Regions from separate parts of the Homo sapiens genome. Here region 1 is linked to region 2. A link means that fine-mapping ties the variant in region 2 to the expression of a gene that starts in the linked region. Tissue or cell type: monocytes. Region 2 holds a variant in brackets; the other region holds the start of a gene. All regions are shown on one strand. Distances are between the middles of the regions.

Evidence for each region. PIP is the estimated chance that this variant, and not a neighbour inherited with it, causes the effect. A credible set is the group of variants that fine-mapping cannot tell apart.
Region 1: it holds the start of LINC00467, and the variant in region 2 is the best candidate, but not a certain one, in a credible set for the expression of LINC00467 in monocytes (Fairfax 2014, PIP 0.58).

What each region holds. Positions count from the first base shown.
Region 1 is chr1:211,378,394-211,386,577 of GRCh38, reverse strand. LINC00467 (long intergenic non-protein coding RNA 467) reads right to left here and starts at 3,823. Exons shown (of 6, transcript NR_026761.2): 1 at 3,653-3,823. It overlaps LOC124904504 (a long non-coding RNA gene), which reads left to right and starts at 3,834. Exons shown (of 2, transcript XR_007066868.1): 1 at 3,834-3,985; 2 at 4,180-8,184. LOC107985259 (a long non-coding RNA gene) reads left to right here and starts at 2,294. Exons shown (of 2, transcript XR_001738447.1): 1 at 2,294-3,307; 2 at 3,624-3,752. RefSeq lists an enhancer at 3,641-3,710.
Region 2 is chr1:211,429,155-211,437,338 of GRCh38, reverse strand. LINC00467 (long intergenic non-protein coding RNA 467) reads right to left here. Exons shown (of 6, transcript NR_026761.2): 6 at 4,804-5,020. Among named protein-coding and RNA genes, the nearest start is that of LINC00467, 50 kb to the right of the region's middle. The variant T/GTT (reference allele first, on the strand shown) is at 3,468.

The DNA of each region.
Region 1 (8,184 bases), 51 kb after region 2:
GCATCTATTAATAGCATCATGTAGTTTTTCTTATTTAGTCTGTTAATATGGAGGATTATATGATGTTCAAATATTGAATTCCTGGGATGAGACTTCGTCACAATGTACTATTTTTCTAATATACTGCTGAATTCAATTTGCTATTATTTTTTGAGGAAGTTGTATCTTTGTTCATGAGGGATTTTAACTTTTAGATTTGTTTTTTGTATTGTCTTTATCTGGTTTTGGTATCCAGAAAATGCTGCCTTCATAAAATGAGTTAAGTGTTTCTTCCTTTTCTACGATCCAAAGAGCTTGTAAGAGAACTGTTATTTTTTCATCCTTGAATGTTTGGTGAAATTTGCCAGTGAAATTATCTCGGCCTGGAGCTTTCTTTTTTTTTAAAGTTATTATTCTTTTTTTTTCTTCCTGGCAAGAAGACTCTTGCCAGGGTTTGTTTTTTGGTTGTCGTTTTGTTTGTTCGTTTTTCTCACAAATTCTATTTCTTTAATACTTATAGGACTATTTCATTTACCTATTTTGTCCTGGGTGAGTTTTGGTAATTTTGATAGTGGCCCATTTCTCTCACATTATCAAATTTATAAGTACAGAGGTGTTCGTGTATTACCTCATCCTTTTTAATGTCTGTTGGGTTGGGAGTGCTCTTAGAGCACGTATGTTTGTTTCTTTTTTAAATTTGTACTTAAATTTTTATTTGCTGATCTTCTCTGTATCATTCCAATTTTAGTATATGTGCTACTGAAGCAAGCACTAGCACAGATGTTATAGGAATGACTTCAATAAAATACTGAAGACAAGGTAGACCTGCAGCATAACTGATCCTCGAACCTTGTTATCATTGATTTCCTCTTTCAATTCCATATCCAGTCAGATATTTGATTTGTCCTTGTCAATACTTCTTCTGATTTCTCTTCATTCCCAATACTGCTTGGCACAGTCTCCTACCTAAATGATTCCCCTGCCACTTAACTAGTCTCGTTGCTTTTTCCCACTGTCATGCATTTTTCATACTGCTACCAGATTTATCTTTTTAGACCTCAAATGGTTCAACACTGCCCACAAGATAAAGGCCTTCCACATCTGGCTTAGTTCTGGTGTTCTGAATAATACTTTTTCCCTAAATCAAGGGTTTTTAACATTTAAATTTGAGAAGGAGTAGTCAACAAATCTCCTAAAATTAAGCATAAAATGTTGTATGGATGTGAATTTTATTTCCAGAGCAAGATCTACAGCTTTTTTAAAAAATTTATTTTTAGGCTGGGTCTCATGGCTCACACCTATAATCCTAGCACTTGGGAAGGCCGGGGTGGGTTGATTGCTTAGGCCAGGAGTTTGAGACCACCCAGGCCAACGTAGCAAAACCCATATCTACTAAAGTTACAAAAATTAGTCAGGTGTGATGGTGCACACCTATAGTCCCAGCTACTCGGGAGGCTGAAGCATGAGAATCACTTGAACCCAGGAGGCAGATGTTGCAGTGAGCCAAGATTGCACCAGCCTGGGTGACAAAGCAAGACTGTCTCAGAAAAACATAATTTTTATATATTTAGAGGGTACGAGTGCAGAATTCTTAGATGTACATATTGCACAGTGGTGAAGCCTGGGCTTTTAGTGTACCCATTACCAAAATTGTGAGCATTGTTCCCAGTATGTAACTTTTCAACCCTCACCCCCCTCCCATCCTCCCACCTTTTGTAGTCTGCAGTGTCTATATGTACGTGTACCCATCACTTCTCAGCTCCTGCTTTAAGTGAGAACATGTGATATTTGGCTTTCTGAGTTATTTCGGTTAGGATAATGGCTTCCAGTTCTATCCATGTTGCTGAAAAAACATGACTTTTTAATGGCTAAATAGTATTCCATGGCATACACACACACACACACACACACACACACACCACCACATTTTCTTTACCCAATCCTCTGTTGATGGAGGGTCTACAGATTTTATCAGATATTCAAAATGAGAAAATTGTACTCTGAATCCTTCAACCTTGTCTCTGTATCGAGAACACACTACAGGTGGGGTGCAGTGGCTCATACCTGTAATCCCAGCACTTTGGGAGGCCAAGGTGGGAGGACTGCTTGAAGCCAGGAGTTCAAGACCAGCCTGGGCAACATAGTGAGACCCTGTCTCTACAAAAAATACAAAAATTAGCCGGGCATGGTGGTGCACACCTGTAGTCCCAGATACTCAGGAGGCTGAGGTGGAGGCTGCAGTGAGCTCTGATCACGCCACTGCACTCCAGCCTGGGCGACAGAGTGAGACCCTGTCTCAAAAACAAACAAACAAAAAAACAAAAAAAAACACTAAAAACAAACTACAGCCTCCACCTCCCTCAATAGTGAGTACAGAGTTATCACTCCTCTCTCTGAAATTAGATTTATAATATTTTAGTGACCTAGCCTAACCTTAACATTTTACAGATGAGTAAACACATCTAGCACTTTTACCTGATTTGTCCAAAGTTGCTCTTATACAATTTGTATTCTGTGCAACTGAGATGGGATTTATCTGCTATTTTATGTGGCCTTTTTATGAAGGCCTTTTCATGTTTCTCCTTCAGGTCGGAACTAAACCTCAGAGTTCTTCAAAACCCCAATTACCTTTATTGTCTTACATAAGCTAGCTGCCCAAATGTTTGCTGAGAATAGTGATAACCATTGTCATATTGAGGTAGAGGAAGGGGGCTGGTTGGTGGGTACTGGTTTAGGGGTACTTTTTTAAGGAAGCATGAGCACATTTTGGATATGCAAAATATTATTAAGTTTAGAGCTTAGATTTGGAAAAACAACACTTAAGCGTCTGTGTAAGGAGAGCTCTGAGAAAAGGGTTTTCAGACAGAACCCAAATTTCTCAAGAAGAACCCTCTAAACAGCATTAAGGAAAAAAATTCCTCTGTAGAAGCAACTAAGAAAAAAAGGAATACTCAGTATTTGGGAAAGAGAAAGGAATGAATGATAACAACACCAGATTGAGTAAGCTACACAATAAATCCAAATTTCAGCCCTACCACATCCAACCTATGTTGCCTTGAGCAAATTATTAAACTTTTCTGTGCCTCAATTTTCTCATGTCTGCCTACTTAAGGACTGCGTGGGAAGATTAAATAAAATGCATGTAAAGCACTTAGGTCAGTACCTTACTCTTAAGGCACTCTTAAGGGTTTGAGAAGGAAGGGAGGGACGTTAAGTGGAATGGTCCTTGGTACATTTTTGTTCCGCGGCAGTAGGATTCTGAAACAGAGGACATAATTACAAAGAAAGTTGGAGTAAGAAGTGGTGGTGCGGGCATCACATTTTCCTGGTGAGTATCTGAGGGCCCATCACAACTGTAGGAAGCGGAAGGGCTAATAAGTGTCAGGCCAAGAGCACACCCTCCAGGGTGCATCTGAGAAGTCGGCGGCCGTCGAGTATTAGCACTTAAATACTACGAGAGCTTTCATGACAAAGGACACATCTTTTGGGGAAACTCAGAGCTTGGGAGCGGCCTCATTAGCGGGGGACCGGGCAGAGGGGGGCTACCAACAGTCCCCTCGGAGTGACCGAAGGGAGATTGAGGAAAGAGTGAGGTGGGAAGAAAATGGCGGCGCGGCTTCTACCGGTTTGCCTTCACACTCTAGCCACAGCCCCGGCTGGAACGGTCACTTACTGGAAACTGCAGAGAAACAACCTGTTTGGTCCGACTTGACAACCTCAACCGGACCGAAGGTGCTGAACAACCAGTGCGGCGAGCGCCGCGAAACCCAACGCCCGACCGCGTAGGGAACGTCACAGCGCGCGCACGCGCAACAGTCGACTAGAAATGTCCGGCCTACGCCACAGAGCGGGGCGGGAGCGGAAGCGACTCTTCCGGTCGCGGGAGCCTTAGGCAAGAGCTGCTGGACTGGAGGGAGGGAGGGGAGGGGAGGGGAGGGGCGCGGGGACTCAAGCCACGGTTTTTGTGTCCGCGGCTGCACCCCTCTCGAAGCGTTTTCACGCACATGTGAGAAACCTCACACCCTGGGGCCGATTTCTTTAGTAGATTGGCGCCCAAATGGCAAAGATTTCCAGGGATTTGTTTGGGATTCCATATTTTTGTAGATTTGCCGAGATTGGATACTAGTACAATATTGAGAATTCCCGTCCAGCAATGTGGCTATTTTTTTAAATTAATTCAGTTCTCCCTTTGTTTTTCAGGTAAAGCGTTGCAGTTCGCTTGGTGTTGTGCGCATTTAACATTTTTTCATAGCTATTTTTGTTATTGTAGTTTGTTTTTACTAATAGACTATTAATCCATTAGTATCCTTGTATAAGAATGGCTTTTGATTGTTGATCTATCTGGACACTTCACTAAACGTTCGTATTCTAAAAATTTGACAGGCAGTCCTCTTTGATTTGTAGGTAAGAATTTATCTGTAAAGAACAATTTTGGCTTTTCCCAAGAATCCAGTGCAACACTGAATAGTAGCCGGAGGTACTTATTTCTTACCAGGAGTTATTTTGGATTGCATCTTAGGTTTCATTCAAGATATCTTCTGCAGGTTTATGGTGTGTGTGTGTGTGGGTGTATAGGCAAATTATGTTCTTTTCGTAGTTTACCATATCGGTTTTTTTTTTAATCAGCAAATGACTAAGTTTTACCAAGTATTTTCAGTATCAGTCTTTGAGATGATTGTATGGCCTTTTTTCCATTACTCTACAATAAAATAACTACAATAATAGATTTTCTAATGGTGAGCCAAACTTAGAATCCTGGTATCTTATTTTTTCAATATATTGCTGGATGCAATTTGCTGTGTAGTTAATTTTGGATTTTCATGTATGCACCTAAGTTAGATTGGCTTATGGTTTTCTTTTGCTGTCCTTGTCTAGTTTTGGTATCAGGTTGTGCTAGGAGTCAGACAGGTTAACTTATTTTTGTATGACCTGGAATAGACATAGCATGTGTGAATGATACATTTCTTAGGTTTTGAAGAACTCATCTTTAAAGCCTTCTGGGTGTGGTGCCATCTTAATGGATAGTTTTGTTTTTTATATAGCGTCCATCGTTATTGATACCTAGAATTTTTTCTTTTGCTTCTTGAGAAAATTAGTTTTTTCTAGAAAAGTATTGGCCGGGTGCGGTGACTCACGCCTGTGATCCCAGCACATTGGGAGGCCGAGGAGGGCGGATCACGAGGTCAGGAGATCGAGACCATCCTGGCTAACACGGTGAAACTCCGTCTCTACTAAAAATACGACAATGAAAAATTAGCCGGGCATGGTGGCGGGCGCCTGTAGTCCCAGCTACTCAGGAGGCTGAAGCAGGAGAATGGCTTGAACCCGGGAGGCGGAGCTTGCAGTGAGCTGAGATTTTGCTACTGCACTCCAGCCTGGGGGACAGAGCGAGACTCCATCTTTAAAAAAAAAGTATTTCAGCTATATTTTCTAACATTTAAAAAAATCTCATATTGTTCTCAACCATTCTTATATATTCTTATATATATATTCTTATATATTGTATTGGAGTCTTTTTCTTGATCATATTTATCAAACCAGCTTTTGGTTTTATAGATAAAATCTGTCTTAAAAGTAATTTCTCTTTCATTAATGTATGCCTTCATTAATTTCTTCTTATCTCTTTGGGTTTATTTTGTTCTTTTTATAGAATCTTGGAAGCTTAACTTTCCTTTAAAATGTTTAATATGAAATATTACCAGAATGTACAGTTACAGAAAATAATATAATGAACACTTGTATACCAACCATCTAGCTTTATCCCATTTTAACATTTTCTCTTATTTGCTTCAGATTTTAACATTCAGTTAGAGCTCCTTGTGAAACTGCCTGCAATCTCATTCTCCCTCTCTTCCTCTCTGAAATTAACTACTTCATTGAATTTGGTATCTGTCATTCCCATGAAAGCTTTTATGTATGCTCCAAATACATGTAGCGATGTTAAGTAGCATAAAGTACTGTTTTATGCTTTTTAAACCTAATATAAATGATATGCATGTCACTTACTTTTGCCACCTATAATTATGTATGTAAAATTTATCCAGGATGATTCCTGTAGTTCTAGTTTTATTTTAACTGCTGAATAGTATTCCATTGTATAATTGTACCACCATTTATCCATTCTCCAGTTGCTAGCAATTTCATGATTCCTGATTTCTGTCATTATAACATGAGTTAGTTCTTGCACACAGCTTCTTAGACATATGGTAAGAATTTCCTTAGGATAATGTCTAGAAATGGAATTGCAAGGTGGAAGGGTTTGCACAGTTCAACTTTGATATTGCCAAATTGTTCTCCAGTGGTTGTACTAACTTACCCTCCATCAGCAATGTAGGAGAGCTGCTGTTGCTCCATTCCATGCCAACACAGGTTATTTTTTTGCCCCAGTTTTTTTGTTTTGTTGTTTGGTTTTTTTTTTGCTGTTACCAACTGCTGACAGTAAATTTTCTTGTACATGTTTCCTGGTACACGTGTGCAAGAGTTTCTCTGACTATAAAGCTAATGCAGTTATTAACTCTATTTTGTTTTCGGTATGTTTTTTAAAAGCATGTACATGTCCCCCTCATTTGAGATTTCTCCCTGTTAATACTAACACTTAACTTATTCATAGATATATCTCACTCATTTTTTTCTATGTATCATGCTTCCTGTTCTCTTTACTGCCTTTGGTTTGACAGTCTTTTTTTCCAGTTTTTTTCCCGCTTTAGTGGTTTGAAAGTTATATTTGATTTTTATTCTATGAATAGTAGTTACTCTTCTAACTCATTTAAAGGTGTATCTTTATATATATGTGTGTGTGTGTGTTTAGAATTCATCAGTATCCATATGAGGCAGTCTGTGTAGTGGTTAAGAGTGGAGCCTGTGAGGCCAGACTGCCTGGATTCAGATCCTAGCACTACCACTTATTAGCTGAGTAACCTAGAGCTTATTACATAAACTCTCTGTGCCTCAGTTGTTTCATCTGTAAAGTGGGGATAATACAGCATATACCTCATGAGGTTGTTCTAAGATTAATATGTTAATATATGTAACATTCTTAGGACAGTGCCTAATGCTTGGATCTCTTTACCAGATTTTTCATCTATGGAATGGGCAGAAGACTTGCCTATCAGAGTTGTTACAAAAATTCAGTGCATTAGTGTATTCATTCATTTTAATACACTGAGCACCTGCTGTGCACTTTTGAATTAGACATGGTTCTCGGCTTCAGTGGTCTCATAAGGGAACAGACATGAAATGCAATTTCAATACGATTTAACCTTAATACTCTTCCCATGTTCTCTCTTGTCCCCCTTCTAATCTGTGCTCCACATTAAGAGGCAAAACATTAATCAGATCATGCATCCTCTGCCCATCATATGTTAACTTTCATTATACTTTACATAAACCATAAACTTCTCACCATGGCCTGAGCCCTCAGGTTCTAAACCCTGTGCCTCCCTCTCTAACCTCATCAACTATCATTCTCCTGATTTCTACCAAATTCCCACCACACTATCCTCTTCTCAGTTCCTTGAGCCAACACTCTTCAGTGCCCTCTGCTCAGATTACTGATCCACCCTGACAGCTCTTCCCACGACTGACTCATCTTTCAGATCTCAGCTTGATTAGGTCAGGCAGTTAGTTACAAGCAACGGAATCCACTCTGGTTGAGAAAGAAAAGGACTTTTAAAAAATCATGTAGCTCACAGAATCTCTAGGAGAGCCAGAGGCCAAATATGGAAACAACGGTACCCAAACACACTAGACGATCTAGTGAGAATCCATTGCTGCTGCCACCATTGACACCAAAACTGCAACTTCCACAAACACTGGCGGTCCCCACTGGTAGCCAGAGTTAGGCATGTTTCCTTCTTCATCTTGCTCACTTTTTTTTTTTTTTTTTTTTGGAGATGGAGTCTCACTCTGTCACCCAGGCTGGAGTGCAGTGGCATGATCTCAGCTCACTGCAACCTCTGCCTCCCAGGTTCAAGCAATTCTCCTGCCTCAGCCTCCCGAGTAGCTGGGACTACAGGTGCCCGCCACCACGCCCGGCTAATTTTTGTATTTTTAGTAGAGACGAGGTTTCACCTGTTGGCCAGGCTGGTCTCGAACTCCTGACCTTGTGATCCACCCTCCTCAGCCTCCCAAAGTGCTGGGATTACAGGCGCGAGCCACTGTGCCCAGCCTGTCTTGCTCACTTTCAAGTTGAAATTTTGCATTGGC
Region 2 (8,184 bases):
GTGTGTTAGTTTTATAGATATTTCACCCAAACATGATGGAATTATCTATATTGATATTTCAGGAATGAAATCATTTTCATGACTTCTTACTTCATTTTAATCCCTGAATATAATTTAACCTCTTCATTATACAACAAGCTGGGTAATACTAGGTTTTGTGGGGCCTAAAGCTTATACAATTTGAAGGACCCACTAAGAAAAAAGAATACAAAGTCAGGTACTTTTTTTTTTTTTTTTTTGAGACGGAGTCTCGTTCTGTCGCCCAGGCTGGAGTGCAGTGGCGCAATCTTGGCTCACTGCAAGCTCTGCCTCTTGGGTTCACGCCATTCTCCTGCCTCAGCCTCCCAAGTAGCTGGGACTACAGGCAGCCGCCACAACGCCCGGCTAATTTTTTTGTATTTTTAGTAGAGACGGGGTTTCACTGTGTTAGCCAGGATGGTCTCCATCTCCTGACCTCGTGATCCACCCGCCTCAGCCTCCCAAAGTGCTGGGATTACAGGCGTGAGCCACCGCGCCCAGCCAAAGTCAGGTACTTTTAAATGTGAATATTTATGTGCAATGGTAACAGAAATTACAAATTATAAATTTTACTTGACACAGCAGAAATATAACAAAATCCAGAAAAATAACATTCTATTTTTATTAACTGCTTGACATATCTATATATTATTTTTTCCAACTTTTTTGGATGCATACTCTTTGTCACTTCACTGTATGACTTTGTAATATCTTTTTTTATATATATATAAATTCAGTCCTTCCTCTGGCATAGTTGATAATTTTTTTTTAATTATAGGATACAAAATTCACAAGTATGTCTTTACACAGCTATGTAGGTACACTATTTGTATTACTGCTGCAGGGTTGTGCTAGGTATTGATGAGACCCAAATCCTCTGCTAACAATTTTTCCAATTTTTCGTATCTGATTATTTGACATTTTCTACAGATTACGTTCTACTAGGTACTTTTACTTTTTTTTTTTTTTTTTTGAGACAGGGTCTCACTCTGTCACCCAGGCTGCAGGGCAGTGGCATGATCTCGGCTCACTGCAACCTCCACCTCTCAGGTTCAAGCAATTCTCCTATCTCAGCTTCCCAAGTAGCCAGGACTACAGGCGCACACCACCATGCCTGGCTAATTTTTGTATTTTTAGTAGAGACAGGGTTTCACCATGTTGGCCAGGCTGGTCTTGAATTGCTGACCTCAAGTGATCTGCCTGCCTCTGCCTCCCAAAGTGCTGGGTTTACAGGCATGAGCCACTGCGCCCGGCCAGCTCTATACATTTCAAACCCTGTTTCTCCTCTAATACCCATTTAACTTCCAATGCCAGGCAACCTAGGACAGATTCACATTGTGGTAAGACCTCTGGCCCTGCACCTTGGTGTTACAAAAGCATATGACCATGTAAGCCCCATGCTAGGGACCCTCCCAGGGCCTTGGCAGGGGCCCTGAAGCTTAAGCTTCATCAGCTTCCTGGTATCAGGAAGCTCAGCTGATGAAGAAAATGGAGAGGAAAACAGCTTGGGAGGAACAAATTGGCATGAGAACGCAGGTCTCCTTACTGTGGTCCACAGTGTTTTCCACCAGAACATATTTTAAATCTTTTTAAAATTCTTCTCCATTAAATTACCTCTTGCTTTTGATTTTGTTTACATGATTCTTTCAGTAGATTTAACTTTTATCCCAGAAAGCATTATACCTCTCGAAAGTGAGAGTTTTATTCATAATTTGATCCATCAAAAGTACTATTCATATGGATAAATACAAGCTTGAAATTAAGAACAAATCCAGAGAAGTAATGCACTACTTCAAACTCCATTTAGTCAAACTACTTCTGTTATTCTGTCTTCCAGAGGTATGGTTACTGTTTTAATTAATCTACAAATAACAAAAAACGATTTGAAATAATGTCTAATATCTACATTTTATTATGCCCTTTTGAAGAGACCACGGTTTTCCCATAATTATGAATATTAGTTTTCCTGGAAAAAAGAAACAGTCCATTTATAAACTAAAATGCCTTTATTTCTTCAGTAAATAAGAAAATGAAAAACAAACAAAAATCCCTGTATCCTCTGCTGGTACATTTCAGAAATGTCACCATTTCAAACATAAGGAAATAATTTTCTTGATACATAAATACTAGAAGCCCAAGAAAATATGAAGGGGAAATTATCTATAGTCATATGCTAAATATCTCTGTAATCAAAGATAAAGATGCTTAATTTATCTGCAATCCTATTATAATTTACCTTGAGTTAATATCCTTGGGGAAAAGAATCCTTTAAGGAATTCTATTCAGTAAAACACTACATTAGGATAATATGAACAACATATTGTTTTATTTTTAAAAATAGTTTTAGAGATAGGGTCTTGCTCTGTCACCCTGGCTGGAGTACAGTGGTGTAATCATAGTTCACTGCAGCCTCAAATTCCTGGGCTCAAGCGATCCTCCTACCTCAGCTTCCCAAGTAGCCAGGACTACAGGTTGGCATCATCATGTCTGGCTAATTTTTCTATTTTTTTTTTTTTAGAGATGGGGGTCTCTTTATGCTGCCCAGGCTTGTCTCAAACTCCTGGGGGCTCAAGAGATCCTCCTGCTTTTGGCGTCCCAAAGTGCTGAGATTACAGGCGTGAGCTACTGAGCCTGGCCTACGAACAGCATATTAAATTCTAACATCGGCACAGAATGATACTCAAGATTATTTTTAAGTTGTCTGCCTCAGTGACAACGTAACAGTATCAAAATTTCCAATAAAAAAATCAATTAGGCACAGTGGCTCACACTTGTAATCTTCATTTTGGGAGGCCAAGGTGGGGCCATTGCTTGAAGCCAGGAGTACGAGACCAGCCGGGGCAACACAGAAAGACCATGTCTCTACAAAAAAATCTAAAAATTAGCTGGACATGGTGGTGTGCACCTGTGGTCCCAGCTACTTGGGAGGCTGAAGTGGGAGCATCATTTGAATCCAAGAGGTCTAGGCTGCAGTGAGCCATGATCATACTCTCACACTCCAGCCTAGGTAACACAGCCAAGACCCTGAATAAATAAATAAATGAATCAATGACTGAATGAATATAAAAAAAACAACCTAGCCCTCTCTTTCAACATTTACTTCTAACAGGAGTTTGTTTTAAAAGCAAATATCAAGTACACAGTTAGATGGGATACACATTCAATCATAAACCTAAGTGAGCAAAAATCCCAAGGATCTATAAAACTATCAAAGGCAACATAAAAGGCTTACCTGGCAAATTGCTGTTTCTGTTTGTTGTTTTTTGTAGACAGAGTCTTGCTCTGGCGCCCAGGCTGGAGTGCAGTGGTGTGATCTTCGCTCACCGCAGCCTCTGCCTCCCAAGCTCAAGCAATCCTCCCACCTCAGCCTCCCGAGTAGCTGGGACTACAGGCATGTGCCACCATGCCTGGCTAAATTTGTGTGTGTGTGTGTGTGTGTGTGTGTGTGT[T/GTT]TGTAGAGACAGAGTTTCACCGTGTGTGTGTGTGTGTGTTTGTAGAGACAGAGTTTCACCATTTCGGCCAGGCTGGCCTCAAACTCCTGAGCTAAAGCAATCCGCCTGCCTTGGCCTCCTAAAGTGCTGGGATTACAAGCCTCAGTCACCACGCGTGGTCTGCTTTCTTATTTTATAAAACACTGTGATAATTTTTTTCTTATATAATTTTTATTTTTTTCAACTTTCATTTTTAGACTTAGGGGATAGATGTGCAGGTTTGATTCCTGGGTATACTGCATGATGTGATCATTTTTAGACCTGAAAACTTTTTGTTGGAAACCCACAATCAGTGTACCTAATGCAAAGGAACATTACATCATGCTCTAAAAACAAATATTTGAGATTATGAAAACCTGTAATATTTGTTGAAAGAAGAAGACATAATTGCAAATGTAAACATAAGACGCGGGAAGAAAAACTAAGTAAGAAGTACATGGGCCAGGTACGGTGGCTCACACCTGTAATCCCAGCGCTTTGGGAGACTGAAGTGGGTAGATCACCTGAGGTTAGGAGTTCGAGACCAGCCTGGCCAACATGGTGAAACCCTGTCTTTACTAAAAATACAAAAATTAGCTGGGCGTGGTGGTGCACACCTGTAATCCCAGCTACTTGGGAGGCTGAGGCATGAGAATCGCTTGAACCCAGGAGACAGAGGTTGCAGTGAGCTGAGATGGCGCCACTGCACTCCAGCCTGTATGACAAGAGTGAAACTCCATCTCAAAAACAATAACAACAAAAAAGAAGTACACAGAGGCCAAGCACGGTAGTTCACGCCTGTAATCCCAGCACTTTGGGATGCCGTGGGGAACAGATAACCTGAGGTCAGGAGTTCGAGAGCAGCCTGGACAAAATAGCGAAACCATGTCTCTACTAGAAATACAAAATCAGCTGGGTGTGGTGGCATGGACCTGTAGTCCCAGATACTCAGGAGGCTGAGGCAGGAGAAGCACTTGAACCTGGGAGGCGGAGGTTGCCGTGAGGCGACACTGGCCCACTGCACTCCAGCCTGGGCGACCAGAGTGAAACTCTGTCTCAAAAAAAAAAAAAAAAAAAAAAAAAAACATGGAAAAGACTTTATCTTTTTCATGCCATCTGTAAGTCTTCTACCTTGCATAGAACTTTGGTAAAAGTATTTTATACGTAATTAATTAGGCATAATATTCAAGAAAGCAGACTTATTCTCCTCCTTCCCTACAACACACTTGAATATAAAAAAAAAGTAGGCTAGAATTGCCACAACTGGCTTGGACTTGAGGCTCTCAAGTTTTGCACGTGGGCCTTCAAAAACAAAATATAATTTCCAAACTCTTTATTATGTGGTTTACAGAGCATCTGAAGATTGGTTTCATGAGTCTGAACTTAGTGTGAAAGATGTTCAAATTCAAATCCCCAAGCCAGCGCATCAATGTTTTTGTAGGCTTCACAGTGCTGGGCTCCGCATCCTTCTTTGGCCGCCTTACACCAAAACGCTGAGCTTGGAAATCAAAAGGGTCAGCCCAGTTTCAGTCCCTCTGCAGACAATAAGTAGAACACATTAGAATAGATTTACTACCTATTTTATTATACATAATACTTACAGTAGAAAACAGAAATTTTGGACATCATTGTTTTTAGATGAGAACACGTTAAGCCTTGAAAAGTAAGTTAAATTAACACTGGAGCTTTACTTCAAACTCTAAACATATAGTCTTTAAAACGCTAATAATACTATTAATCATCAAGTTTTACCATTAAATAAATGTTTTAGATACAGTGGCTTTATTTCAGACTCCATTTCCTGTGGCCTAAAAAATGGGGAGAAAAATAAACTTCAACTATAACAATCTAAATTTCAAATGGTAAGAGGTTATTCTATGTGGAAAAAACACAAACAAGGATTTATAAAGACTGAGTGGAAATGAAAATAACTGACAGTAAATTTCTTGGATTTGCAAATTTTGAATACTTATTTTGAAGGTTGGAATGTTTAGCAACTTTTAACCTTAAATTATTTCAAATCAACCAAGTACTTAGTTTTGTGGAAATTTTGTGAGGGTGAGGCTCATTAGTGAGTTTTTAATTCACAAAAATAAAATCCAATTCCAATTACCAAGTAATATTTTAGAGTTATCTTAGATTGTACAACTGGCCACATATTTTAGGGAGGTACAACAGTTTATAATGGGATACAATACTTTGCACATATTAAATGTTAATTCCTATTGTATCTTTATCCTTTTTTCTCTTAAAAATTTTTTTCATTTTATTTATTCTCACTTTATTATAGTTTTCCTTTTTCCCAGAAATCACCACAACATTACAGTCTGGTATTTAGCATATAAGCATATTTGTTCTTCAGCATAGTTAACATTATCCAGTAGTATCTGATGCCATCCTGCTGTTAATTCTGCTGTTAATTCTGCTGCCTAGATTGCTAGACCCCAACCACAGCTTGGCAGAGAGTGAAGGGAGGTTTTGTTTTTGTACCCCTTTATTCTGGTCTAGTGCAAGAGGAAAGAAGAGCTCTCTGCCATTGCAGGTAGCCAGACTAATGCTAGGAAGGGAAAAAGCTTTAACTCTGAGTAAAGTTCAGAGTTATTCATTATTGCAGCTATCAAGGAGAACATTCAAAACTTGGAAATAAGGTTAAGCGATAGCTGCATGACCTTTTAATGTCATGTTAGGGCACTGTTTAAAAAGGCTGCCTAACAGTCATCTAATTCTCCAGGGAAAGTAATTTTGTTGCACACTGTATTCACTATGGCTTGGAGCTCACATATCTACATAACAAACAATTTTATAGCTAGAGGCTAACAAATAAAATGGATGAAGTGTGACAATTCTCTTTTCTGACCAGTAGAAAGGGTAATTTTAAAGATTATACTTTCATTGCCCTATAGAACTGACTAGTTTTGTATCTAATTTAGCAATCTTATCTCAGCATTCCTTTTTCCCCCATTCATTATAAAAAACAATAACCAAGTCTTTAATATTATCATTTCAACTAACTTTTTCATCCTACTGGTTCCCTCACTGAGTTAAATGAAACTTGGGCACATGCCCCCAATCTATTGTATTCTAATTTGAACCTATTTAACTCTCATCTTAGAATTATGTTTCTATGCAGTGGTTCATGCCTGTAATCCCTGCACTTTGGGAGGCAGAGGGCAGGTGGATCAGGAGGTCAGGAGTTCAAGACCAGCCTGGCCAAGATGGTGAAACCCCGTCTCTACTAAAAATACAAAAATTAGCTGGGCATTGTGGCAGGTGCCTGTAATCCCAGCTACTTGGGAGGCTGAGGCAGGAGAATCGCTTGAACTCAGGCAGCAGAGGTCACAGTGAGCCACTATCGTGCCATTGCATTCCAGCCTGGGTGACAGAACAAGACTCCGTCTCAAAAAAAAGAATAATGTTTCTAAGATTACAAGAATTTTACCTTGTATCACTGGGGCCAGAAATTGTGCTAAATGGCTATTACTAGCTGTAAGGGAGGCTGGGAATTTGAAGATTCACTTTTTAGTCTTTGTAAGCTAAAAAGAAAAACAAGAGCTTTCAAGAGACCAAACCTATAATAACTGTCACTAAAAATGCATGTGTGGTAGTAATGGCAGGGGAATGGTGAGAGAGAATAATCAAGAATGATCCCCAGATCAGGCTTGGGTTGTAAATCTACTAATATGAAGAATTCTGGAGAAGAAGCAGGTCAATACTAAGCACTGAGAAATTAAAAGCTTTATTATTATTATTATTATTATTATTATTATTATTATTATTATTAGATGACATCCACTGATTCAGCCCTGACATTATCCACAATTGTTATATGCTGGAGATTTTCTTTCTTTCTTTTTTTTTTCTGAGATGGAGTCTTGCTCTGTCACCTAGGCTGCCCAGGATGGCAGTGGTGCCATCTAGACTCACTGCAACCTCCACCTCCCAGGTTCAAGCGATTCTCACGCCTCAGCCTCCCGAGTAGCTGGAATTACAAGCATGCACCACCATACCCAGTAATTTCTGTATTTTTAGTAGAGACAGGGTTTCACCATGTTAGCCAGGCTGGTCTTGAACTCCTGACCTCAAGTGATCCACCCACCTCAGCCTCCTAAAGTGATGGGATTACAGGCGTGTGCCACTGGGCCCAGCCTGTGCTGGAGATTTTAAAGGAAGAAAAGTAATTTATAATTATCCAAATCCTTGTAATAGTTGGTCAGTTGGGTGGCAAATCCCAGCCTATCAATTATATAGTAGAGTGCCCCATCCTAATGAAACAGTTTATGACAGAATGCTTGCATTAGACATTGCTTGCATTAGACACTGGATTTGTGGCCTCCAAGAAAATTTTCCAAGCAAATGACTCTATTTACCTCCAATTTACTACAAAACAAACATTTGCAATGTAGGAATTACTTAGAAATTTTAGTTCAAGTGTGTACTAAACACAAATGAAATGTTTTTATAGAGTATAGAAGAACTGTAAAAACACAATGCAATGTTTATTTTGAGATACGGTTGTGCCTCAGTCGACATGGAAGTTTGGTTCCAGGACCTCCACATATACCAAAATTCACGCATACTCAAGTCTCACAGTTAGCCTTGTGGAACCAGCTGACAAAAAGTTGGCCCTCAGTATATGCAGGTTTTGCATCCCACAAATACTGTATTGTCAATCCACATTTGGTTGAAATAAATTTACATG